7 linked regions of the Homo sapiens genome follow. The protein of the gene in region 1 purifies or fractionates together with the protein of each later gene. This does not show direct contact. Each region holds a gene or a part of one and is shown in the gene's direction. Other genes may lie near its edges.

Evidence for each region.
Region 2: the proteins of PREP (region 1) and TARS1 fractionate together in Homo sapiens (co-fractionation; one large-scale study listed by BioGRID). This does not show direct contact.
Region 3: the proteins of PREP (region 1) and RCC2 fractionate together in Homo sapiens (co-fractionation; one large-scale study listed by BioGRID). This does not show direct contact.
Region 4: the proteins of PREP (region 1) and GLO1 fractionate together in Homo sapiens (co-fractionation; one large-scale study listed by BioGRID). This does not show direct contact.
Region 5: the proteins of PREP (region 1) and PPP1R8 fractionate together in Homo sapiens (co-fractionation; one large-scale study listed by BioGRID). This does not show direct contact.
Region 6: the proteins of PREP (region 1) and MCCC2 fractionate together in Homo sapiens (co-fractionation; one large-scale study listed by BioGRID). This does not show direct contact.
Region 7: the proteins of PREP (region 1) and QDPR fractionate together in Homo sapiens (co-fractionation; one large-scale study listed by BioGRID). This does not show direct contact.

What each region holds. Positions count from the first base shown.
Region 1 is NC_000006.12:105,281,083-105,284,582, reverse strand, and holds part of PREP (prolyl endopeptidase), read left to right. Parts: intron 1-2,000; coding exon 2,001-2,132; intron 2,133-2,680; coding exon 2,681-2,837; exon of another isoform or gene 2,838-3,500. UniProt on the Homo sapiens protein: Cleaves peptide bonds on the C-terminal side of prolyl residues within peptides that are up to approximately 30 amino acids long.
Region 2 is NC_000005.10:33,447,465-33,450,964, forward strand, and holds part of TARS1 (threonine--tRNA ligase 1, cytoplasmic), read left to right. Parts: intron 1-1,076; coding exon 1,077-1,267; intron 1,268-3,500. UniProt on the Homo sapiens protein: Catalyzes the attachment of threonine to tRNA(Thr) in a two-step reaction: threonine is first activated by ATP to form Thr-AMP and then transferred to the acceptor end of tRNA(Thr).
Region 3 is NC_000001.11:17,422,678-17,426,177, reverse strand, and holds part of RCC2 (protein RCC2), read left to right. Parts: intron 1-493; coding exon 494-637; intron 638-3,341; coding exon 3,342-3,473; intron 3,474-3,500. UniProt on the Homo sapiens protein: Multifunctional protein that may affect its functions by regulating the activity of small GTPases, such as RAC1 and RALA. Required for normal progress through the cell cycle, both during interphase and during mitosis.
Region 4 is NC_000006.12:38,679,146-38,682,645, reverse strand, and holds part of GLO1 (lactoylglutathione lyase), read left to right. Parts: intron 1-544; coding exon 545-634; intron 635-3,500. UniProt on the Homo sapiens protein: Catalyzes the conversion of hemimercaptal, formed from methylglyoxal and glutathione, to S-lactoylglutathione. Involved in the regulation of TNF-induced transcriptional activity of NF-kappa-B. Required for normal osteoclastogenesis.
Region 5 is NC_000001.11:27,837,282-27,840,781, forward strand, and holds part of PPP1R8 (nuclear inhibitor of protein phosphatase 1), read left to right. Parts: intron 1-1,417; coding exon 1,418-1,571; intron 1,572-3,500. UniProt on the Homo sapiens protein: Inhibitor subunit of the major nuclear protein phosphatase-1 (PP-1). It has RNA-binding activity but does not cleave RNA and may target PP-1 to RNA-associated substrates. May also be involved in pre-mRNA splicing.
Region 6 is NC_000005.10:71,593,840-71,597,339, forward strand, and holds part of MCCC2 (methylcrotonoyl-CoA carboxylase beta chain, mitochondrial isoform 1 precursor), read left to right. Parts: intron 1-2,440; coding exon 2,441-2,525; intron 2,526-3,500. UniProt on the Homo sapiens protein: Carboxyltransferase subunit of the 3-methylcrotonyl-CoA carboxylase, an enzyme that catalyzes the conversion of 3-methylcrotonyl-CoA to 3-methylglutaconyl-CoA, a critical step for leucine and isovaleric acid catabolism.
Region 7 is NC_000004.12:17,498,591-17,502,090, reverse strand, and holds part of QDPR (dihydropteridine reductase), read left to right. Parts: intron 1-231; coding exon 232-372; intron 373-3,500. UniProt on the Homo sapiens protein: Catalyzes the conversion of quinonoid dihydrobiopterin into tetrahydrobiopterin.

The sequences.
Region 1 (3,500 bases):
TACCAGGACCCCAGTGCTTGGGGCTGGTCAGCAGCTCCAGGTGAGAGGGGTCTCCTCAGCATCAGAGACCACCCTTAAGATATCTGTACCTCTCTTCTGTTTCCCATGCCATCCCAAACCAGAGGCCTGAGGCTCTGGATTTTTTTTGCATCAAATCAAATCAGCGAACATGAGGGTAAACCTGTTGTAAAGAGATTTCCATTAAGTACCTGTTAGGTACCATATGCAGGAAAGGCTTAGAAATGACCCCCGGGCATCCAGCATGCACCCCAGGGGCTGACAGCAGACTCCTCAAGTGCACCTTAGTGAAAGTGAGTGCCCCTGGCCGGCCATCTGGTCCATCGTTGCCAGTTATCATCCCCAGAAACTACTGATTGTGACTGTCTTTGAAACTGCAAAGAATTCATTGCATAATTTTGAGCTGATATTAGAGTTTACACTAAAATCATACTGTGAAACTGATATTAAAAGATGAGTGATAAGAGGATAAAATTTCTGTATACCATATGTTTGATCCCAAATATGTATGCTAATTCTGAACCCCTTGACTCACCTGATTTCCTATTTAAATTGTATGTAGTTTATGCACCATACCCCCTACTCATGGTCCCCTGATCCTGGGATCCTCTCCTGAAATAACTGGATTATTCTCCAGAAAACCCCTCTGGTCATCAGATGTCCACCATGCTCTGAGAGGGAAGAGTAATTTGGTCCTAGTCTGCTCTCTCATTTTTTATTAGTTAGAACCAAGTTATTTTCCAGTCTTGGGATTAGGCAGGTTCAAGATTGACTAAGGCTAACAGTAGACTATGTTTAGACTGATTTATAAACTTCCTCAAAATTTAGGCCATGATGAAAGGACCAGAAATAGACCTTTTCCAGTTATAGCCTAGGATATGATACACTGGTAAATCTAAATTCCATTCTGTTAATTGACTTTAAAATTTAATGCTCTTTTTAAAATGTAGTCATATACCCAAAATATTGTTATTCCTAGTAACTAAGTAATCCTAGCTGTTCTAAATTCACTGGTAATTTCTTACTGAAATCTTAATAACATTTGTTTTGATATGAAAAACATTTCAGTAGGACTGCTTTATCTTTAATTAAATTTCAGCAGAAGTGGTTAATCTCAAGTATCTAATTAGATCTGTGTCTGCTCTTTGTTCATTTCAAAGGCCGTTATTTCAGACATCTGTTCCTTTGAGGACATGCTTTTGACTTTTGGCCTTTACTTATAGATATTTCATGGCCCTGTAAATGTTTCTCCAAGTAATTTGTTTGGTTTAATACACTGGAACGATTTGCAGATGATAAAGCCCAGATTCTCTGGGGAAACGTTGAAGATCTTTCATTCTGGAATTGAGAAAACATAATGTGATGCTCTGCCGCAACGCTACCTCACCACCCAATTCCTTTTGTTCTTTCCATTAATAACCGAGGGCAAGACTGGGGAATTTCTTTCTCCCCATCACCGACCATGTCAGACTCCTGCAGAGGTGGGGTGGGAAGCGTGCCTCTGCAGAGCGCTTCCACCTCCGTCTTCGCGGGGAGGGGAGACACGAGCACTCCCACAGCCAGCTCCGGCTCGGGTGCTGGGTGCAACCTAGAGGACTAAACACTGCTGCAGGTCTTGCTTTATATTTGTAAGTTCAGCTTCCCAAAATACAGGTTCCTTGTGATGCCATGCTTCTATCCTTTCATTATCATACATCTCTCATAACCGACCATCTGTTCCCTTTGGGGCATTTCCCGTTTAAGTTCTAGAGGCTTTTAGAAAAATACAGATCCACCATATGGATTAGCATTGTGGTATTGATGATATATTTCCACAGTGCATAACAGAACTTAAATTGAGGCTTTTTTTTAAATGCAGTGTTAACCCATGGTTTTTAAGTTAATCAGTATTTGAAACCGTGCTCTATCATTTGAATTCCCATTAGATTAAACTTATTTTTATGTTTTGTTAATTAACTATCTTCCACTTTGGCACACTGTAGGTGGTATCTTGGCCAACAAACAAAACTGCTTTGATGACTTTCAGTGTGCTGCTGAGTATCTGATCAAGGAAGGTTACACATCTCCCAAGAGGCTGACTATTAATGGAGGTTCAAATGGAGGCCTCTTAGTGGGTGAGTACTGGATTTTATTCATTGCACTTACTAGTTAGCCCTCTTGGGGTTTTCAGATACACCATCTGTAGGCAGCTCTTGACTTAACTTTGTGGATAGGACCACAAAGTGGTATAAGGAGAGCAAAACCCATTTGTACCATTTGTATTTGGGTATCTGATAAATGACATACGAAGAGACCCTATTTATTTTGCCTTGGGCAGGTCCTGAGATCTTGAACAAGTCCCTTAATCTCCCTCATCACTGTGAAAGCAAGTGGGGATGGGAGGAGGGGATACAGGGTTTCCAGAAAGTCCTCAAGCTTTTCAAGATTCACTTTGGGGAGTAAAGCTCCATTACTGATGAGAATCCCCACCCCCTCTGACAGATCTCAGAGTGGGTGGGGAGCTTTGGGGCTATTGGGCAGGTGATTTCTGATGGTTTCCTCTTGTGCTCTGGATAAATGCAACCAGGGCTCTGGAAGCATGTAAGTAAGTATTGCCTTGCCTTGTTTATGTAGATGTTTAATGATAGACTGCCTCCCTTTTCTTTCTACGTTGGGCTTTTAGCTGCTTGTGCAAATCAGAGACCTGACCTCTTTGGTTGTGTTATTGCCCAAGTTGGAGTAATGGACATGCTGAAGTTTCATAAATATACCATCGGCCATGCTTGGACCACTGATTATGGGTGCTCGGACAGCAAACAACACTTTGAATGGCTTGTCAAGTAAGGTTTTATTGACATATATATGTTGTTAGTGGTTTGATATAAAGTTGAACACAGTCACAGCAGGATTAGTGCTTGAGCTTTGTCACTGTCAGGGTCTTGCATTTGCATATAATCTGCTGGAGAGGAGATGGGACTACCTACTTGTCTTTCTTGATTTAATATGGTCTTGAACAAAAGCAACAAACTACAAAAAATGTGGTAGGGCAGAATTCTACAGATGGCCTCCCAAGATTCCTACCCTGGTTATTCAAACACTTACCTAGATACTGCTTGCTGTCAGGGAGCAGGATATTCATCTGCTGCTCTTTGGATTATCTCTTGAGGGGTCCCAAATCACATAAACCCTTAAAGGCTGAGCACATTCTCTGGCTGGAGTCAGGGATGCAGCAGAAAGGGAGGTCAGAGAAATTGGAAGCTTGTAAAGGATTCAGCCTGCCATTGCTGGTTTTGACAATGGAGGAAGGGGGACCTCTAGAACCTGAGAGCAACCCCCAACCAATAGCCATCAAGGAAACAGGACCTAAGTCCCACAGCCGCACAAAACTAAATTCTGCCAACATCCCGAGACTGCAAGTAGGTTTTTTCCAGAGTTTCCCCGTAAGAGTCCAACCAGCCAACACCTTGACTTTGACCTTCTTTGACCTTGGAAGACCCAGAGCA
Region 2 (3,500 bases), on another chromosome or scaffold:
TCGAACTCCTGGCCTCAAGTGATCCATCTGCCTTGGCCTCCCTAAGTGCTGGGATTACAGGAATGAACCACCATGCCCTGCCCCAGTCAGTTTCTTAAGGATTAGATATTCCCTTGTACTCCTTTCAAATTGTGGTATGTTGATATATATGGAGACATATGTATGGAGACGTTGGTAGCATTATCAACATTGAATAAATGTTAAAATCTGTATTGCAGTAAGTCATTTTATATCTGATAGATTGAAATTCATTTGAAGATAGAAAGTCATGGCAAAATTAAGCAATCTCCTCTTCACTTTTGTATGAAGTGTTAATGTTCATGTAATTTGAAGATGATGAATGCTGTAGATGTTAGTTTGACTGTTTTGTTACCACAGATTCACTGCCTTTTTGAAATGTTCCATAGATTATAGAGTGACAGTAGAAGAAGTCAGCTCTCTGATTGCTGTCTCTTTTTCTTTCTTTGCCAAACCTCTAGAAACCTAAGTGGGTGTTTTATATAGAATATTTTTGTTAATTTTATCTGCTATAGAAAGTAGTAGTGTGTTGTTTTATATAGTTGCTAATTACATACTCCAAGCTGATCATGGCATCTTTGAATTCAGTAAATACTTTCCTTGAAGGGGAGACCTTAAGTCAAAGAAATTTGTGATTGGTTGTGAGTGGACATATAGGCTGACCCGCTGCACAGACCATCACCTGGACATGAATGAAACAAAATAGAAAAGCCAGTTTATTGTTTTTATTTCCAGTATTGTTTATAGCTCTATTTGTAAAATAATTTAGTTAGAAAAGATCCTAAGAAGACATCTTAAAAGAGAAAAGACCACTTGCTGTAAATAGTAGCAAAATGGTAATTGTCGATTCAGCATAAGAATAGGGCATTTAATTCCTTCTTTTACCTTCATTTAGAACCAAATTGAGGTAATGCCGGGTGATTTTGGCAGTGTTTATTTACCACATTGAATCAATAGTCCTGGGTTTCTGTATTGTTTTTATTATTTCTTTCCCATTTCTAAATAGGAAAGCAATATTTACTGATCATTTATTTCCTGATTTGTTTGTTGTCTTGCAGTTGAATCCTTGGCCTGAATATATTTACACACGTCTTGAGATGTATAATATACTAAAAGCAGAACATGATTCCATTCTGGCAGAAAAGGCAGAAAAAGATAGCAAGCCAATTAAAGTCACTTTGCCTGATGGTAAACAGGTTGATGCGGAATCTTGGAAAACTACACCATATCAAATTGCCTGTGGAATTAGGTATAAGCTACACCCATCATGACCTTCCATAGTTTGTGGTCTAACTAAACTTCCTTTTATTATCTTGCCATGTTTTATTCTTATAATATTTTTATGTTACCATTCAGTGTTTTTAATCTGTTTAATTTTGCCTACTTGAGATTTTTTAAAAATCAAAATGATACAGAGCTTTGTAGTCAAAATTCAAAGTTAATTTCTGAAAGAGTTTACTTTGGTCTTATCTTTTGGGGCATTGTATATTTTTAGTCTTACTATGATTATAAATGTTACAAAACCGACTAGACAGTGTTTACCTATTTCGACTTAAATGTCTTGGTTTTGAAGTTAAAAATGAAGCTACATAATCTCACATGGAAAGGTTAAGAAACTTCATATAACACATGAAAAAAATGTACTATTTTTATAAATTCAATGAAAGACTATTCCTAGTCTTAAAACTTTTATTGGGGTGGGAAGAAGTTATTTCAATTAACTGAGAATTAGATGCATATTTTGTAATAGGGGAGAGGCTTTCTTAATCTGATATGATTGGGATCAATAATTGGTCAGTTTATCAAAATAAGAGTTGGTAAAACATATATATGTGTATATATATACGCGTATATATACACGTGTATATATATATATCTTAAACTGGGTATTGGGAAACTCTAGTCATAATCTGTTTGTGTATGTCCTGAAAGCGAAAAATAAAAATGATTCTTTTTTTCTTTCTTTTTTTTTTTTTTTTTTTTTTTTTGAGACAGAGTCTTGCTCTGTTGCCCAGGAGGCTAGAGTGCAGTGGCGCGATCTTGGCTCACTGCAAGCTCCACCTCCCAGGTTCACGCCATTCTCCTGCCTCAGCCTCCCGAGTAGCTGGGACTACAGGTGCCCGCCACCACGCCCGGCTAATTTTTTGTATTTTTAGTAGAGACGGGGTTTCACCGTGCTAGCCAGGATGGTCTCGATCTCCTGACCTTGTGATCCGTCCGCCTCGGCCTCCCAAAGTGCTGGGATTACAGGCGTGACCCACCGCGCCCAGCCAAAAATGATTCTTAAATTTTTAAATAGTTGGAAAAAATAAAACAACTAAGAATATACAACAGAGACCATGTTTGGCCTGCAAAGTGTAAAATATTTGTGTGGCCTTTTACAGAAAAAGCTTGCCAATCTTGGTCTTAAACACTTCAACTTAAAATATGTGAATATGTATGTATTCACTAACTTTATATACATACATAAAACAGTGAATATATATATGTATGGCAAGGTTTGGGGGATAGCGAGTGCTAATTAGAGTTCTTACATTATCTTAACACATACGAGAAGTAGTCTGAGCACAGAATCCTTGCAGATTTTCATGTAGTTGTAGAGTTACACCTAACTTGACAGTGTTTTTGTGTGTGTGACTTGGATTTATCAAGCCTTCTCAAACATTCAACTTGGTTTTCATAGAATCCATAATTCCCTTATTGTGTTATTTTATAATTATATATTTTTGAAGTTTATTTATAAGTGTTATGTATTGAATTGAACCATTTGGAATCACCATATGAATTGTCATGTGGTTGATTATCATCAATTTTGTATTGTTGAACCAAACACGTAAAAGAACAAGCACAAAAACAGTTTGGGGAACCAACGTGGCTGATTCTTGGTAAGCGTATTATACAACTAGTAGAAGCAGAACCAGTTAGGCCTATGAGCCATGAGCATCTACTGTACCACAGACATTAGTTAGTACTTTTTACAAAGTGAATGGAGTGTTTCCATTCATTTGACAAGTGCTTCTACCTACAAGTTCTTCTACCTTACTCCAAAGGAAGTAAAAAGTTGTAATACCATGCAAGTTTCTATGTGAGAGCATAGAGAACTGGATAGACCTTTACGTATCAGTTCAACCTTTCATTTTAGAGATAATTTTGAAGGTCAGGTTGATTAATAGATTCCTCTGTTGTCACACAATGAGATTGTAGCCGTGTCATTAAAATTTAGGCTTCTGTTAGTTTGGGAACTTTTTCCTCTACCTTCTACAATGTTGATCTAGATTACATTGTAATTTATCAAGTCTTCAGTTGAAAAATATTCTTCAAGAACTATAAAATTCTAAGTTGAATTACATAGCTGGGCGTGTTGGCTCACAGCTGTAATCCCAGCACTTTGAGAGGCCAAGGCAGGCAGATCACCTGAGGTCAGGAGTTCAAGACCAGCCTGGCCAACATGGCGAAACCCTGTCTCTACTAAAAATACAAAA
Region 3 (3,500 bases), on another chromosome or scaffold:
GGGAAAGGAGGGGCAGGCGGCAGGGAGTGAGGAGGAGGGGTAGGTTACTGTCAGGGTGAGCGGGGTTTCCTGGGTCAGCCTCTTCCTCAGCTGACGGCTGTGGAAAGCCAGCACTCCTGCCTCCTGGACAGACCTCGCACCAGGTCCCGGGCACTTGCGGGTGGGCGTGCTCAATGGCAGAACACGTGGGGCTGAGCCCTGTGAGAGGTGGGACCCAGAGAGGGGGCTGGGGCCGAATGGGTGTAAAGGTGGCAGGTGACGCCAGGCCTGTGCCAGCTTCTGGGTATTTTGATTTTTGGGCCTTCAGAGGCATCGCAGAGATTCGAAGTGAAAACCCGATCCTTGTGCAGCCTCCCAACAGCCAAGGCAGGGTGGCACCCGAGGAACACCTGTCCCTGGTACCCTCGGGAAGTGGCTGCTTGGTGGCCAGTGACATTTTGGAGGTCACCCCACCACCCCAGGTGTCTGATCTGCATTCTCATTCTCTCTGCAGCTGCTTACCGCAATCTCGGTCAGAATTTGTGGGGGCCCCACAGATATGGGTGCCTGGCGGGGGTCCGGGTGCGGACAGTGGTCTCGGGCTCGTGTGCTGCACACAGCCTCCTCATCACCACGGAAGGGAAGCTGTGGAGCTGGGGTGAGTACCGTGCGGGTGCTGGGCACTGGGGACCACTGTCACCAGCTGTCCCCACACAGCACGTTCTTCTGTTTGCCTGGAAAAGAGACTCGCGTCTTATAAGGCTGGGCTCCTTCGTTCACAGCCCATGTCTTTTTTCCTAATTCCCAGCTCGTCTCTTGTCTACACGCTACATGCAGATCCCCTTCCCCCCTGACATTTTTTGCCCATACGCAGCCCCTACTTCTTTGATTCCTTGTGTTTACACAAGGAACATTTTCCTGAATCTTCTGCCCGAAGCTTGATCTTTTCTGATACTGAGGTGTGTGAGTGTGTTAGGCAGGCTGTCCTTCCAGCAGACAGTTTCCTTCCTCTTTGAGGCACGATATGACATGAGACCTCTGTTGCTGCCACTTGAAATGCCACTGGCTTTTCTACCTCCCGCCTCATGTCATAGGATGCTGCGTCCCTGCCGCCATGGCCCTCGTGTCTGAGGTCTGCCCAAGTCTGGTCTGCAGGCTTGGCAGCTCACTGTCCGTGTTGTCTGCTTCTTAGGATATTTCCCCAGATACTTCAGTTTGCTTTTTTGGAGTTGTTCGGCTTTCCCTTCTGTTTTTCCTCACCTGGGCACTCGGGATGGGTTCCAGTTCTTCTGTTAGCCTCTGTCCACGGCACTGTCCTCTGCAGCCGGCCGGCCCATTCCTGCCCGTGTCCTCTTCCAGATCATTCCAATCATAGGGTATGGGCTAAGGCTCATTTTATCCCCAGCCCTTTTGGTGACTCCCGGCCTCTGCCTCCAGCGGGGCATATTGGCGTTTGTCCCCACCCTTTGTCGCTGGTCCTCTGGCTAGCTTTTAGTCCATATGACTGCATTTTTATTTTGGGCTGTTTGAACCGTTTTTTGTGATTTCATGAGCTGCTGTACCAAAGTCCAAATATATTAACATCTGTTGTCTTCCCTGCACATGGCTAATTTTGTAATTCTGTTGAAAAAAGCTAAAGTGTGTCTGGCCCAAATTTATACTTTATAGTCTCTTGATGACATGCTGACATTGCCACAGTTTTTGTTTTCTCCCGGTTGGCATAGATGTGTGTCCCTTCCCCCAGAGCACCCCTCCTACTTTGTGTTCCAACACTGAACACAGCCTTTTATGTCAGTGTTCCAAACTTAAAATACCTCAGTTCTGATCTCTCGCTGAGCTTCACTTGCGTGGTGGCTCTGAAAGCGCCCTCAGTTCTGACCCTGTGGGCAGGGACAATGTATGTCCCGCCATCAAGACGTGTGATCCCCGAGCAGACAGTGCAGTTGGTGAGGACAGGGTTGGAAGGTGTCACAGGCCCACTGCTCGCCACTCTAGAAGGCAGGGGGCGGCGTCTGGTGTGAGTAGAGTACCACGGGAGGGTGGCTGACGCATTGCTCATGTGGGGTCTCCATCTGTGGCCCGCTCACCCTGTCCTGCCGCATCTCAGTCCACTGAGACTTGCACTTGTTGCTCTGTATTCACATGCCTTTCACATGAACTTGGGCAGCTCCCATTGGAAGCTGGTGTATCTGCCTCTCCTGCTCGAGTGCCAGTGCTGGCCCTTCAGCCCGCCGTTCTTTAATTAGAGCGAGTCAGAGGCTGGTTTCCCTTCGTCGCAATTCCTTCTGTAGTCAGAGGCTGCTCCTGCAAGCCTTCTCCAGGACAGCTGGAACTCATCTTAATGGCTCTGCTGTCTGCCTTTATCACAACCTAAGGGTGAAAAGTTCATTGCTGGAGAAGGTTGCAAAACCCCCTAGAATTGCCCTGACTTCTCACCACTGTAAGATCTCCGTCAGTTTCCCCACGTCAGGTTACATGTGTGGTTTTTCTCTTATCGGGAGGGATCCGAGAGTGGCCGGTTGAATTTTTGTTTTGGAACTTGGTAGTTTGTGTTGAAACCTAGATGCGGTGTAGGGGCTCCCAGCCCTCCTTTTGGCCCACCCAACTTCCACGTCTGTTTGGAGTTGAATTTGGTTCTGCAGAGGACTTGGGGGTAGGGGTTGGCCCTCAGGCCTGCCTTCCGCTGGAATTCACAGATACAGGGCCTTGGTCGCACCTGCAGCAGTCCTGGAGGTGGGGCTGGGCGTGTTGTGTTGAGGGTGGATCTGTGCTTTGTCACCAGGGTTCCTGTGGCTGAGAGTCCTTGAGGGGCGATCCCTAGGGGTGGGATTGGCACTGTTATGTGAGCACCATTTACAGGGTAGAAAAAGGAAGAGAAATATTGGGCAGACACCAAATGGTCCTCAGTGGATGCCCAGAGCACCAAAGTGATTAAACTCTGGTGAGCCAGGTGTCAAAATGGGGTGCTGTCTTAAAATACATCTCAGAGGGTAGGGACGGGGTGGTTGTCTTGCAGGCACTCTAAGTGGGAACGGCGTGTTTCTGCGAGCATGCCCGCCTGTGCATGGTGTCCCTACCACACTGAGCCTCTCATTTCCCTTTGTAGCAGAGACGTGGGAGGTGTGCACGGGTGGTCCCGCTGCTGCCCCAGGGAAGGAGGTCCGGGGAGCTGCAGCAGGCGCCATTCCAGCGGGCAGAGGGCCGGGGCGTTCTTTGCTCTGGATCTTGGCTGTTGGGAATTTGGAGGGTACCTTCCAGAGACAGATGGGCATCATTTGAGAGTGTGTTTGTACTCGCCTTCTCCTGGTGGTGCCGCCTGGACCACCCTCTCTCTTTTCTACTTTCTCTCATGTGATCTGCAGGTCGAAATGAGAAGGGGCAGCTGGGACATGGTGACACCAAGAGAGTAGAAGCCCCTAGACTCATCGAGGGTCTTAGCCACGAAGTGATTGTGTCTGCAGCATGTGGGCGGAACCACACCTTGGCCTTGACGGGTAAGGAGGTGGCTGCTGGTGTCTCCT
Region 4 (3,500 bases), about 67 Mb from region 1:
GAGTTGTTTAATTTCAGAGTCTCGATCTAAAATTACACTTACCATCTCACCATGATTTACTTTTAAGTCTCAGAATTAATTTCCAGTAGACTTTTTTTTTTAAAAAAGCTGTAGTTAATACTAATCCCAGTTTCTGCTAGCACATACACTTCTGCCTTGATCTCCAGTCTCTCAATCAAGATGACAGTATTGCAGGCTTCAGCTGGCTGCTATAGTCAATGCCAACCACAAACCTATTAAGTATTAGTAAATGATTACTGTTTTTTGGTGTCGATTATTCTTAACTGATTAGACTGTATATGAGCTGATATTGATTAATTTTAAATAATTTATAATTCAAGGCAACTAATTAACTACTTATACCCAGCCCATTAGATCTATATTTGTTCTTTAATGTATTATAGATTTTGAACCTACCTAAGTCTGTTCCCAAGTGCCTTATGTTTTGAAATAAACAAGTTTTGGAATCTACTTGTGGTACTTGGACACCCTGTTATAATTATTTCTTCCTTCTCTCTGCTTTTTTCGGGGGGTATCACGTAAGGTCATATTGGAATTGCTGTTCCTGATGTATACAGTGCTTGTAAAAGGTTTGAAGAACTGGGAGTCAAATTTGTGAAGAAACCTGATGATGGTGAGTCTACTACTTACTGTGTTCAGGCCTGTCTTTAGTTGATATTTACTAACCACCTACAGAGGCCACTGTTGTAGTAAAACCCTTTTGGCTACAAGTAACAGAAGTCTCCACTTCAACCAGAGTTTTAAAAAAGAGAAATGATTGGAAGAATATCTGGGTATTTTAGGGAACTGAAAGACAGCAACTAGGGTGGCTTTCCAAGGCACTAGACACAGGACCTGGACAGCCATCAAAACCCTACGCTTCCTCTCCCACTGCCCGACCCCACCACTTTCTTTCATTGGCCACCAGCTTTCACTATTTCAGTGTATATCTTTCCGCCCAAAAATAAGTTCCTTAAAGTCCATTTTATCTGATGCTCATATAATGACACCAGCTCTCTTTAGTTTATAATCACATGGTATTTCTTTTTCATCTTTTATAACCTTTGTATGTCCTTAAGTTTTAGGTAGGTTTTTTGAAATAGCCTACGTATGGATTTTGCTGGGTTTACATGTATTGTTATTATTTTACTTAGATCTCTTTCTGAACTATTTCAAATTAAAATTGAAATATTAAATATTTCAGAGTCTCAATCTAAACATTTGAAATATTTCACTGTTTAATTTCAATCCTTTTTTAAAAAAATTAAAATACTTAATATCCAGTGCTGGGCGTGGTGGCTCACACCTGTCATCCCAACACTTTGGGAGGCCAAGGCGGGCGGATCACGAGGTCAGGAGATCCAGACCATCTGGGCTAACATGGTGAAACCCTGTCTCTACCAAAAATAGAAAAAATTAGCCAGGCATGGTGGTGGGCGCCTATAGTCCGCCTACTCAGGAGGCTGAGGCAGGAGAATTGCTTGAACCTGGGAGGTGGAGGTTGCAGTGAGCCAAGATCGCACCACTGCACTCCAGCCTGGGCGACAGAGTGAGACTCCGTCACAAAAATATATATATATTTAATATCCAAATCTTCTCCCCAATAAGAAAGGAATTTGCTTCACTCTGTCCTCATTGTGTCACTATTACCTAGAGTGGGATAGTATTGATTTTATTTTTTAAAGATAATAATAAATATATCACGGTGTTTGATCACTTTTTCTTCATATATCTCTTGTAGTGTCTCCTTTGAGACAGGATCTCACTCTCATCCAGGCTGGGGTGCTGCAATGGCACTGTCATAGCTCACTATAGCCTTGAAACTCCTGGGCTCAAACAATCCTCTGCCTCAGCCTCCTCCTAAGTAGCTAGGACCACAGGCACATGCCACCACACCCAGCTAATTGTTTTATTTTTTTGTAGAGATGAGTTCCTGCTATGTTGCCCAGGTTTGTCTCAAACTCCTGAGCTCAAGCGATTCTTTCACCTTGGCCTCCCAAAGCACTGGGATTACAGGCGTGAGCCACTATGCCCAGCCTTTTTAGCATCTTTTGGATTTTTCTGTTCTTTTATTTAAATACCTCAACCAAAATGGTCTTTAAAGGGGTTTTGTTTTTGTTTTTTGAGACGGAGTTTCGCTCTTGTTGCCCAGGTTGGAGTGCAATGGCACGGTCTTGGCTCACCGCAACCTCTGCCTCCTGGGTTCAAGTGATTCTCTTGCCTCAGCCTCCCGAGTAGCTGGGATTACAGGCATGCACCACCGTGCCTGGCTAATTTTGTATTTTTAGTAGAGACGGGGTTTCTCCATGTTGGTCAGGCTGGTCTCAAAATCCCAACCTCAGGTGATCCGCCTGCCTCAGCCTCCCAAAGTGCTGGGATTACAGCTATGAGCCACCGCACCCAGCCCTTTAAAGGGTTTTTAAGGCAAAACTTTTGAGATTCTGTGTAACTGAGGATGATGCCTTTATGTCTGAAGGACAGTTTTATGGAAAAGCCTAGGTTTAATTTCCTTCAGTCTTGAAAATACTCTTCTATTTTCTTTTTGCATATGATGTTGCTGTTGAAAAATCTGTCAATTCATGTTCCTTTGTATATTCTTCTGTTTTATTCTAGAAGCTTTTTATATTATTTCTTTGTCACTGCCTGCATTCTGGGAGATTTCCTCAAACTGGAATACCAATTAGCTAATTTTCTCCCAAATGTATCTGTTCTGATATTTAATTCATCTATTTTGTTCTTAAACACCTGTTATAATTTTGATCTCTAATTTTCGCTTAGTTTGCTTAATATGTTCTTGTTCTTTTTTTCATATTGGTAATATTTCATATTGTTTATTACTTTTTTTTTTTTTTGAGACAGAGTCTTGCTCTGTTGCCCAGGCTAGAGTGCAGTGGTGTGATCATAGCTCACTGCAACCTCAAACTCCTGGGATCAAACAATAATCCACCTCAGCCTCCTGAGTAGCTGGGACTACAGGCAAATGCCACCATGTATGGCTAATTTTTTATTTTTTGTAGAGACAGGGTCTTACTATGTATCTCAGGCTGGTCTCAAACTCCTGGCCTCAAGTGATCCTTCTGCCTCAGCCTCCCAAAGTATTGGGATTACAGATGTGAACCACCACACCCGGCCGGTCATTACTTTTACATGTCTAAATAGTCCTTGGGTCTGGGCATGGTGGCTCATGCCTGTAATTGCAGCACTTTGGGAGGCCGAGGCAGAGGATTGGGAGGTTCGGGAGGATCACTTGAGGCCAGCAGTTCAAGGCTGCAGTGAGCTATGATTGTGCCATTGCATTCCAGCCTGGGTGACATAGGAAGACCTTGTTTCTACAAAAAGGTTTTTTTTTAAATTATCTGGGCATGGTGGCACATGCCTGTAGTCTGTATGCCTAGCTACTCGGGAGGCTGAGGTGGGAGGATTGCTTGGGCCCAGGAGTTGGAGGCTGCAGTGAGCTATGATCCACTGTACTTCATTTCAGTATAAACGACAGAGCAAGA
Region 5 (3,500 bases), on another chromosome or scaffold:
TTAGCTGGGCGTGGTGGCACACGCCTGTAGTCCCAGCTACTCGGGAGGCTGAGGCAGGAGAATGGTGTGAACCCGGGAGGCAGAGCTTGTAGTGAGCCGAGATCACGCCACTGCACTCCAGCCTGGGTGACAGAGACTCGTCTCAAAAAAAAAAAAGAGTTGTTACTGTCTTGAGGGCAGGCCACTTATATCTAATAGAATTAAGAAAAGTTGGGCCGGGCGCAGCGGTTGGCTCATGCTTGTAATCCCAGCACTTTGGGAGGCTGAGGAGGGCAGATCACGAGGTCAGGAGAACGAAACCATCCTGGCTAACACGGTGAAACCCCTACTAAAAATACAAAAAATTAGCTGGGCGTGGTGGCGGGCGCCTGTAATCCCAGCTATTTGGGAGGCTGAGACAGGAGAATCTCTTGAACCCGGGAGGCGGAGGTTGCAGTGAGCCGAGATCGCACCACTGCACTCCAGACTGGGCGACAGAGCGAGACTTAGTCTCAAAAAAAAAAAAAAGAAGTTGGCCAGCCATGGTGGCTCACACCTGTAATCCCAGCACTTTAGGAGGCTGAGGTGGGCAGATCATGAGGTCAGGAGTTCAAGACCAACCTGGCCAGTATGATGAAACCCTGTCTTTACTAAAAAATACAAAAAGTAGGCCAGGCTCGGTGGCTCACGCCTGTAATCCCAGCACTTTGGGAGGCCGAGATGGGCGGATCATAAGGTCGGGAGTTCGAGACCAGCCTGGCCAACATGGTAAAACCCCGTCTCTACTAAAGATACAAAAAATTAGCCGGGCATGGTGGCGCGTGCCTGTAATCCCAGCTACTTGGGAGGCTGAGGCAGGAGAATTGCTTGAACGCAGGAGTTGGAGGTTGCAGTGAGCCAAGATTGCACCATTGCACTCCAACCTGGGTGACAGGGTGGGACTCCATCTCAAAAAAAAAAAAAAAAAAAATTAGCTGAACGTGGTGGTGCACGCCTGTAGTCCCAGCTCCTTGGGAGGCTGAGGCAGGAGAATTGTTTGAACCCAGGAGGCAGAGGTTACAGTGAGCCAAGATCATGCAACTGTACTCCAGCCTGGGCAACAGAGTGAGACTCCATCTCAGAAACAAAAAAGAGAAAGAAAAGTTATTTTCATACCAACACTAGACAAACACTACATTGAGGAGATGAATTACCATCCATTCTCCAAAAAATGTTATTTTAGTAAATTATTCTGAGTACTTTATGTTGAAGAATAATGGGAGATATTTTTTTCTCCTTGGAAAGGATTTATTTTTCTTTTTTTGATGCAAGGAGATGGAGTTTTTACTCAATCTAATGGAAAGGAATTTTATCTACTCAAGATTCTCTATTTGGGAGAGTTTTTGGTAAATGCTGTTGAAACAAGATTTAAGTAATATTTAATTTAATATTTATTTAGAAACTGATTATTGATGAGAAGAAGTATTACTTATTTGGGAGAAACCCTGATTTGTGTGACTTTACCATTGACCACCAGTCTTGCTCTCGGGTCCATGCTGCACTTGTCTACCACAAGCATCTGAAGAGAGTTTTCCTGATAGATCTCAACAGTAGTAAGTAACTCCCTCCCAATTCACATGTTACCTTTAGGCAATATGAAAATACTCTTTGGGTTCTTTAGTTTGGAAATTACGTTTTATGGAAAAAGTTAATGTTTGGTTTTTAAATCCACCCTTCTCTATTTCTGTGATTTTTCTATTTTCCTGAGATAATTGCTAACTGACTGTGGAGAGAAGAGGGGTTTGGGGAGCACTGTCCTGGAGGAATCAATAAGCAAACATAAGCTGGATGTGGGGGCTCACATCTGTAGCTACTCAGGAAGCTGAGGCGGGAGGATCACTTGAGCCCAGGAGTTCAAGACTGCAGTGAGCTATGATCACACCACTGCACTCCAGTCCGGGTGACAGAACAAGACCCCATCTCTTAAAAACAAACAACCAAAAAAGAGCTGGGTGCAGTGGCTCACTCCTGTAATCCCAGCACTTTGGGAGGCCGAGGTGGGCGAATCATTTGAGGCCAGGAGTTTGAGACCAGCCTGGCCAATATGGTGAAACCTCGCCTCTACCAAAAATACAAAAATTAGCTGGGTGTGGCGGCGGGTGCCTGTAATTCCAGCTTCTTGGGAGGCTGAGGCAGGAGAACCGCTTGAACCCAGGAGTGGAAGGATTCAGTGAGCTGAGATGGTGCCACTGCACTCTAGCCTGGGCAACACAGCAAGATTCTGTCTCAAAAAAATAAAGAAAAGGAAAAAGGCACCCAGGAACTAGGGACCATGTGTGTTCAAGTGTTTATAGGACCATAATAAATTGTGATTCTGTTTCAGCAGAAGCCATGATTAGCTCCATTGATGTAATAGAGCAGCAACATAGGGCATTTTAAGAATGATTGTCTTGAGGAAAATTTCATTATTCTGGTTCTTTATCCCATCTCTGTTTTGCTTTGACTGTGAATAATACCAGTTTTAATTCCATAAGCAAGGCCAGGCATGGTGACTCACACCTGTAATCCCAGCACTTTGGGAGGCCGATGTCAGTGAATCTCTCAAGCCCAGGAGTTCAAGACCAGCATGAGCAATGTAATGAGACCCGCGTCTCTACAAAAAAATACAAAAAGTAGCCCTGTATTGTGGAGTGCGCTATGGTCTCAGCTGCTTGGGAGGCTTAAGTGGGAGGATCGTTTGAGCCCAGGAGGTGGAGGTTGCAGCGAGCCATTATCGCATGACTGTACTCCAGTCTGGGTGACGAAGCAAGCCCTACCTCAAAAAAATAAAAATAAAATACTCCATAAGTATTAATTAATTGAAGTATCCATAAGCATACACCAATTAATAAGAGTTTAAACTTCGCCTAAGATAATCCACAGAAATGCAATTGAGATTTAACTGCATGGGGCCCTGAAGTTTGTTCATTTTGCCCGTGTGTGAATACAGTGTAAAATGTAAAGGGTCCTGCTTCCTGGGCATATCATGTTGGACTCCACCACTCTCCTACTACCATACGCAGAAACATACACTCACACATCACCCTAATCTGCTTATATAAGGGTCTTGGAGAGCTTTGTCTCGCAAATACTTATCTTTTCTCTCCCATTTTATAACATGCAGAATGCCAACAGGGGAAAATATTCAGAATCTATAGTAGGATTTTGGCTTGCTTTGGCATTGATATTGCACCTGTTTCAGCCAAGCTCTTTCTTGTCCTGGGGAAAACCTAAGCATAACTGCCACCAGGCCAGCAATTTCTATATTCTTTTGACTTGGAGCTGGAGAGGGAAAACTACAGTGATGTCCAGCTCCTGCTTTGGGAGGCGTGGCTTCTGCTGGGTTGGAGCCATTCTTATTTGACCCAGAATGGAGCCAAGCCTGTATGGCAGCAGAGAACGGTCAGTGGTATTTGTTATCTGGGGGAACAACAGGTCTGAGGATATAAGAAACCCACCGAGGAGATTCAAGGCTCAGTGAGGGAGTTTCCTTCTCACTGTAA
Region 6 (3,500 bases), on another chromosome or scaffold:
TACATTTAGGTTAGAGTAGTTTAAATACTGGATCTCAGGAGTATAAAAATAGTGAAGAAGACTGGATTTGGAAAGTATGGTCTAGAATTGCTTATTTACTAGTTTATTTAGAGACAGGGTCTCCTCACTCTGTTGCTCGGGCTGGACTCGAAGTCGGGAGCTCAAGTGATCTTCTTGCCTCAGCCTCCCAAGTAGCTGAGACTGTACCTGTGCCCCTGTACGCAGCTATGGAATTCATACTTTTGAAGCCATTTTAGATCAAGGTGTTGTCTCCAGAAAAAGAATTCAAACTCTTGCTGAAATGAAAGTGTTTTGTTAGGGGTGATAACTCAATTGTTATGCCCATTTTGAGAGTTTGATTTGGTGAACTCACTGTCCCCCTTAGACATTAAGATGGTGGGTTTTGGGGCCAGGCACAGTGGCTCACGCCTGTAATCCCAGCACTTTGGGAGGCCGAGGTGGGCGGATCACATGAAGTCAGGAGTTCGAGACCAGACTGAGCAACATGGTGAAACCCTGTCTCTACTAAAAATACAAAATTAGCTGGGTGTGGTGGCGCATGCTTGTAATCCCACCTACTCGGGAGGCTGAGGCAGGAGAATTGTTTGAACCTGGGAGGCGGAGGTTGCAGTGAGCCAAGATGGTGCCATTGCACTCTAGCCTGGGTAACAGAGCGAAATTCCGTCTCAAAAAAAAAAAAAAAAGAGGTGGGTTTGACTCAATGGAGGGTTGAGGAGTCCTGTGGCATCAGGTGCCTGCTGGGGATGGTGGATGCTGAGGAACCGTGGTGCAGGCTGGTGGCCACAGGAGGGTAGAGGACTGAGCCGGACTCCCTGGGGAAGGAGGTAGGGAGAAGGGGGAAAGGACAAACTTGGCTGTCACAGCTTTGCCAAGAATTAAATGTCAGGGGAGCTTAATTATGTGCTCTGTGAGCCTGCATCAAGGATAACCCTCTTTCTGGTTCTTCCTAATAAAACCAGAATTCACCAGCTGCTCCAAATTGTAAGGCCCCACTCTAGACAGAATTGCTAAAGAGTGATGTTGTCTTAAGTCTCTCTCTTTTTTTTTTTTTTTACTGAGACGGAGTCTTGCTCTGTCACTCAGGCTGGGGTGTAGTGGCGCGATCTCAGTTCACTACAACCTTGGCCCCCCGGGTTCAAGCGATTCTCCCGCCTCAGCCTCCCGAATAGCTGGGACTACAGGCATGCACCACCACACCCAGCTAATTTTTCATATTTTTAGTAGAGATGGGGTTTCACCATGTTGTCCAGGCTGGTCTCAAACTCCTGGCCTCAAGTGATCCACCCACCTCAGCCTCCCAAAGTGCTGGGATTACAGGCATGACCCACCTGTCACTTTGGGAGGTCAAGGCAGGAGAATTGCATGAAGCCAGGTGTTTGAAACCAGCCTGGGCAACAGAGTGAGACCTCATCACAAAAATTTAGCTGGAGTGGTGGCACATGCCTGTAGTCCCAGCTGCTGGGAAGCCTGAGGTGAGAGGATCACTTGAATTTAGGAGTTCAAGGCTGTAGTGAGCCATGCTGGCACCACTGCACTCCAGCCTGGGTGACAGAGTAAGATCTTGTCTCAAAAAAAAAAAAAAAAAAGGTCCTACTTGGAAGATCGTTTGAGATTATTTTCTTGCCTAAATAAACAAAGAAATAGCTTTCTGAAATAGCTGAACATTTCATTAGACAAAGACTATATTAAGATGAAATTCTTGGACACCAATAAAAATAAACTAATGTTTTAATTATTAAAGGTACAATTTGATACTTCTGTTCTTGCTCCATTACCTTGGTTTGCCGAGAGTGGGTTATAGATATTCCCAAGAATACTCCAGTGGGCTCTTCAGTTATAATTTTCTTTGTCTGTCATGATGTGAGCAATGTTGAGAAGCACTGAAGACAATCTCTGAGTCAAGGAAGGGGACTTTTAAATTGCTAAAGTGTTCAACTCACCCAGTTGCAAGCCTAAAAAGTTACGGATCACTAATGTCATCTTTAGGTAAATTTACTGCACTTATCATGGAAGTAATTTCTAAAATTTTATTTTTACCTGGTACAAATGAAGATAGGAATTTTCCAGATCTATCATAGCATGTATTTAATAAATGTGGTGGAGATGAGGCATTATTTGCAATATGTGAGCTGCAGAGAAAATACTCTGTAATTTATGTAACTACTAGTGAATTCAGAACATAGACTCTAGGATATACTCTAAAATCAGGGATAGATTGATTTTTTTTTAATACCAGTTTTTACATTTACTTCAGAAAATTGGCAACTTGTAAGTTGAGTGAATGATTATTAGCCTTTTCTCAGAGGATATGTTGAACTTTTAAAAAGTGCTATATTTTGGATTAAGTATTATGTTTTTCTGGCATTGAGACCTTTTTATCGTGTCAATCTAATCTAATCTAATCACATTTCTATCATAGGAGGTGGTGAGAAAGCCCGAGCACTTCACATATCAAGAGGAAAACTATTGCCCAGAGAAAGAATTGACAATCTCATAGACCCAGGGTGCGTACATAGCCAAGTACTGACTCAGAGTGTTCTCTGTTCCATAGTACTTTATTAGACAGTCTTGTAAATCAGTTATTTTGAATTCTAGTTCTCATCGTAAGATTCAGGAACATGTGTTTATTGAGAGCCTACTATGTGTCAAGCACTATGTGTTGACATGTTTATTGAGAGCCTACTATTGGTCAGGTACTAGTGATATATCAGTGACCAAAACAGACACAGATCTTTGCTCTACTAGAGTTTACATCATAGCAAAGGGAGACAGAAAGCAACAGTAAAGACTGTAACTTCTGGCTGGGTGTGGTGGCTCACTCCTGTAATCCCAGCACTTTGGGAGGCCGAGGTGGGCGGATCATGAAGTCAGGAGATTGAGACCATCTGGCTAACATGGTGAAAACCCGTCTCTACTAAAAATACAAAAAATTAGCTGGGCATGGTGGCATGTGCTTGTAGTCCCAGCTACTCGGGAGGCTGAGGCAGGAGAGTCGCTCGAACCCCAGAGGCAGAGGTTGCAGTGAGACGAGATTGTGCCACTGCACTCCAGCCTGGGTGACAGAGCGAGACTCTGTCTCAAAAAAAAAAAAGATTGTAAATTCTGTAGTGTGTTAGTAAGTGACAAATGTCATGAGAAAAAGAAAAGGTGGCCCAGGGTAAAGGAGAGGAAGATATAGGGCAAGTTGCAGTTTTAAGAGGTGGTGCCAAGGTAGGCCGCATTGAGAAGGTGATGTCTGAGCAAAGATTTAAAGGAGGAGAGAGAGAGAGAGAGCCTTGTAACTCTCTGGGGAAAGAGTGTTTCAGGCAGAGGGAATGGCCAGTGCAAAGGCCCTGAGGTGGGAGTGTGCCAGGTAATGCTGGTATGCTCAAGGGGCAGCCAGGAGGCTGGGGTGGTTGTGGTGGAGGGAGTGAGGGGAGAGGAGTAGGAGATGGGTCAGATCCTGTATGGCCTTGTGGGTTATCATAAAGGTTTTGGTT
Region 7 (3,500 bases), on another chromosome or scaffold:
ACATTTTGCCAGTGTATAGGTAAGGAAGCTGAACCTCAGGCAATCCCATGGCCTGGATTTGAACCTGTGTCTCTGACCACTGAGCCCTGTGCTGTTTGTGTTAGACCTTGCTGTAGATAGGGACCTGGGGACCAGGAGGGAGGGCCTCCCTGAGTGTGGGGCTGCATGAGTTGAGCTCACCTTTTGGTTTCTTTCCTGGGAATGCTGAGCCCACATGTTTTTTTCACTCAGCTCTCTTTAAGAACTGTGACCTGATGTGGAAGCAGAGCATATGGACATCGACCATCTCCAGCCATCTGGCTACCAAGCATCTCAAGGAAGGAGGCCTCCTGACCTTGGCTGGCGCAAAGGCTGCCCTGGATGGGACTCCTGGTAAGCCTTTATTTCCCTATCTGTGGAGTGGGGTTGCTTACCTTGCTTGCTGGGGCTGCTGGGCACTTTCATGGGATGAGGACTGTTAAAGCCTTTACCCTCTAAGCTGCTTAACAGATAGATGGATTTTGTCTTCTTTTGGGCCTGAATCATTTTAGGGAGAAGAGTTCTGATCTTTTGTTTGCCTGTCCTTATGTTTATGGTGGTGGTAAGGAACGCTATGATCTGGTAACCCCCATTTAGTTTATTTATCTGTGATCTACACTGGAATGAATGGTTTAGTGGATATTAATTAATTAATAAACATGGATTATTATTATCACATTGAATCCATGTGTTCCAGGGAAGCAGCTTAGCAGCTGGAAATAGCATAAGTTTAAAATGAGAGAGGTTCATTTGGCCAGCACAGTGGCTCACACGTGTAATCCCAGCACTTTTGGGAGGCTGAAGCAGGAGGATTGCTTGAGCCCAGGAGTTCAAGACCAGCCTGGGCAACATAGTGAGACCCTATCTCTACATTAGAAAACAAAAAGAGAGTGAGAGGGTTGGGGGTGGATTCTTTATCCTAGATGTGTGACCCTGAACCAGTTCTTCAGTCTCTGACCAGATGTCTACTGTAGTTTCCTTAATTGTAAAATAGTGACAGTGACATCTAACTTGAAGAGTACTGTAAAACTGTAGAGGTGTAGCTATGTAGAAAGTGCACATGGTAGGCACCCATAAATGGCAAGTCTTACTGTTATTCACAATAAATGGTAGGTCTTATAGTCACTCTTTTCATTTCACATATATTCTCACTTTAATCTCATCAATATTATCTTTTTCAGTTTACAGGTTAGGAAACTAAAACTTGGAGAGTTAAGTAACTTGTCTGGGTTTGTGCAGGAAGTAAGTTGCAGACTTACTTGAACCAAAACCCTAATCATCTACCAACTGTGTATTTTTTCCATTATGTCATTTCTTTTGCATTTTTTATGACCTGTATTAGTTTGTTTGGGTAGCCACAGACTGGGTGGCCTAAACAACAGAGATTTATTTTCTCATAACTCTGGAGGCTAAAAGTCTGGAGATCAAGGTATCTGCAGGGCTGGCTCCTTCTGAATCCTCTTTTTTTATAGATGGCTGCCTTCTCCTTTTGTCTGCATGTGGTCTTCCCTCTGTGTGTCTGTCCTCGTTTCCTCCTCTTCTAAGGAAACCAGGCATATTGGACTAGGGCCCATCTCAATGGGCTCATTTTAACTTTGTTGCCTCTTTAAAGATCTTCGAATACAGTCCCATTCTGAGGTACTGGGAATTAGGACTTCAATATACGAATGTTGGGGGGATCTATTTCAGCCCATAACACTCCCTGTGGGATAGGGCTAAAGGAATTTAAGCAGGGGTAGAAAGGGGCAGCATAGGGAGGCAGAAAGTGTCTACCTCAACTACCTAAGTTGAACTCTTCTTTTAAAAAAATGGGAGCTTTTGGCCGGGTGCAGTGGCTCACACCTGTAATCCCAGAACTTTGGGAGGCCAAGGCGGGTGGATCATGAGGTGGAGATTGAGACCACCCTGGCTAACACGATGAAACCCTGTCCCTACTAAAAATACAAAAAATTAGCCAGGCGTGATGGTGGCTGAAGCAGGAGAATGGCGTGAACCCAGGAGGTGGAGCTTGCAGTGAGCCGAGATCGCGCCACTGCACTCCAGCCTGGGCAACAGAGCAAGACTCCCTCTCAAAAGAAAAAAAAAAAAGGTGGGGGGAGCTCTTTTTGACTCTCTTGTAAGTGGTAGAGACCTTGGGACCCTTCTCAGTTGTTTATTTTTTTAGAGACAGGGTCTCACCCAGGCTGGAATGTAGTGGTATGATCTAGCTCACTGTAGCTTGGAACTCCTGGGCTCAAGCAATCCTTTGCCTCGGCCTCCTGAGTAGCTGGGACTGCAGACACACACTGCCATGCCTGGCTAATTTTTGTATTTTTTGTAGAAGCAGGGTCTCGCTATGATGCCCAGGCTGGTCTCAAATTCCTGGCTTCAGGTGATGCTCCTGCCTTGGCCTCCCGGAGCACTGAGACTACTGGCATGAGCCACTACGCCAGGCCCCTTCTCAATTTTAATGTAACTCACTGAACTGTGAGGCTGTGACTACTAGCAATACCTTCCCTCTCATTTTCTTCTTCCATTTCTTAGAGCATGTGATGTTACAAGTCCATGGCTATAGCAATCATTAAAGCTGTGTAAATGTTAGCTGTCTGGTTGGTTGAGATCTGATTTTTATTTAAGATGACACGGAACAGAGGCAGTAGAAAGTAAACAGAGAAATGAGTCTTAGCTTGACATTTTAAAAAACAAAACCCTAGGACCAAAAGACTGATTTTTCTAAATGACAGAAGAGTCTCCTACTTTCCTTTGGTTTGCAGGTATCCTTTGATTACATTTTGGGTAGTGGTTAAGACTGCAGGCTCTGGAACTGTGCACGTTGGACTTCTCTTAAGGCTCTGCCACTTACTGTGACACGTTCGGCAAGTTACTTCGCCTTTCTGAGTCTGCGTTTTGTCATCTGTAAAATAAGATAAAATAGTGTCTCCTTTATATATATGGTGGTTGTACCTTGTAAATGTCTCAATGGATCTAAATGGATGAGAAAGGTATTACAGAGAGTCAATAGTAAGTGTGAGCCATTATTATTATTTACTCCAGGCTTATTTCTGCCCAGCTGTTCTGCCTCAGATGTTAATGAATTTGTTCATCTTTAACCTCTTAAGTTAGATTTTGTTAAGCTATTAATAATTTGAGTCATGAGATCTTTTAAGTATGCTGCAGACCTCAGAAAAATCTGGGGAAATAGATCTACAATTTGAAAGTAAATGATGAATCAGGCTTAGTAGTCCCTCAAACTCAAGAAGATTTGTTTGCACATCAGAAGTTTTTCACTTGGAAGGATACTGAGAAAACCTCACCCTCCTATTTCCAAGTTTGTATTTCTAGACTGTCTTCTGTAGGACAAACAGTATTAAAATGGTGTTCACTTTTGTTTACCATTAAAGGATCTGTGCTGTGATTGGAAATCAGTTTTGGGGGACCACACTGATCATTCAGTAATTTGGAAGTGTTGACCTTCTTAGTGAAATGTCTTTTTTTTCATATCT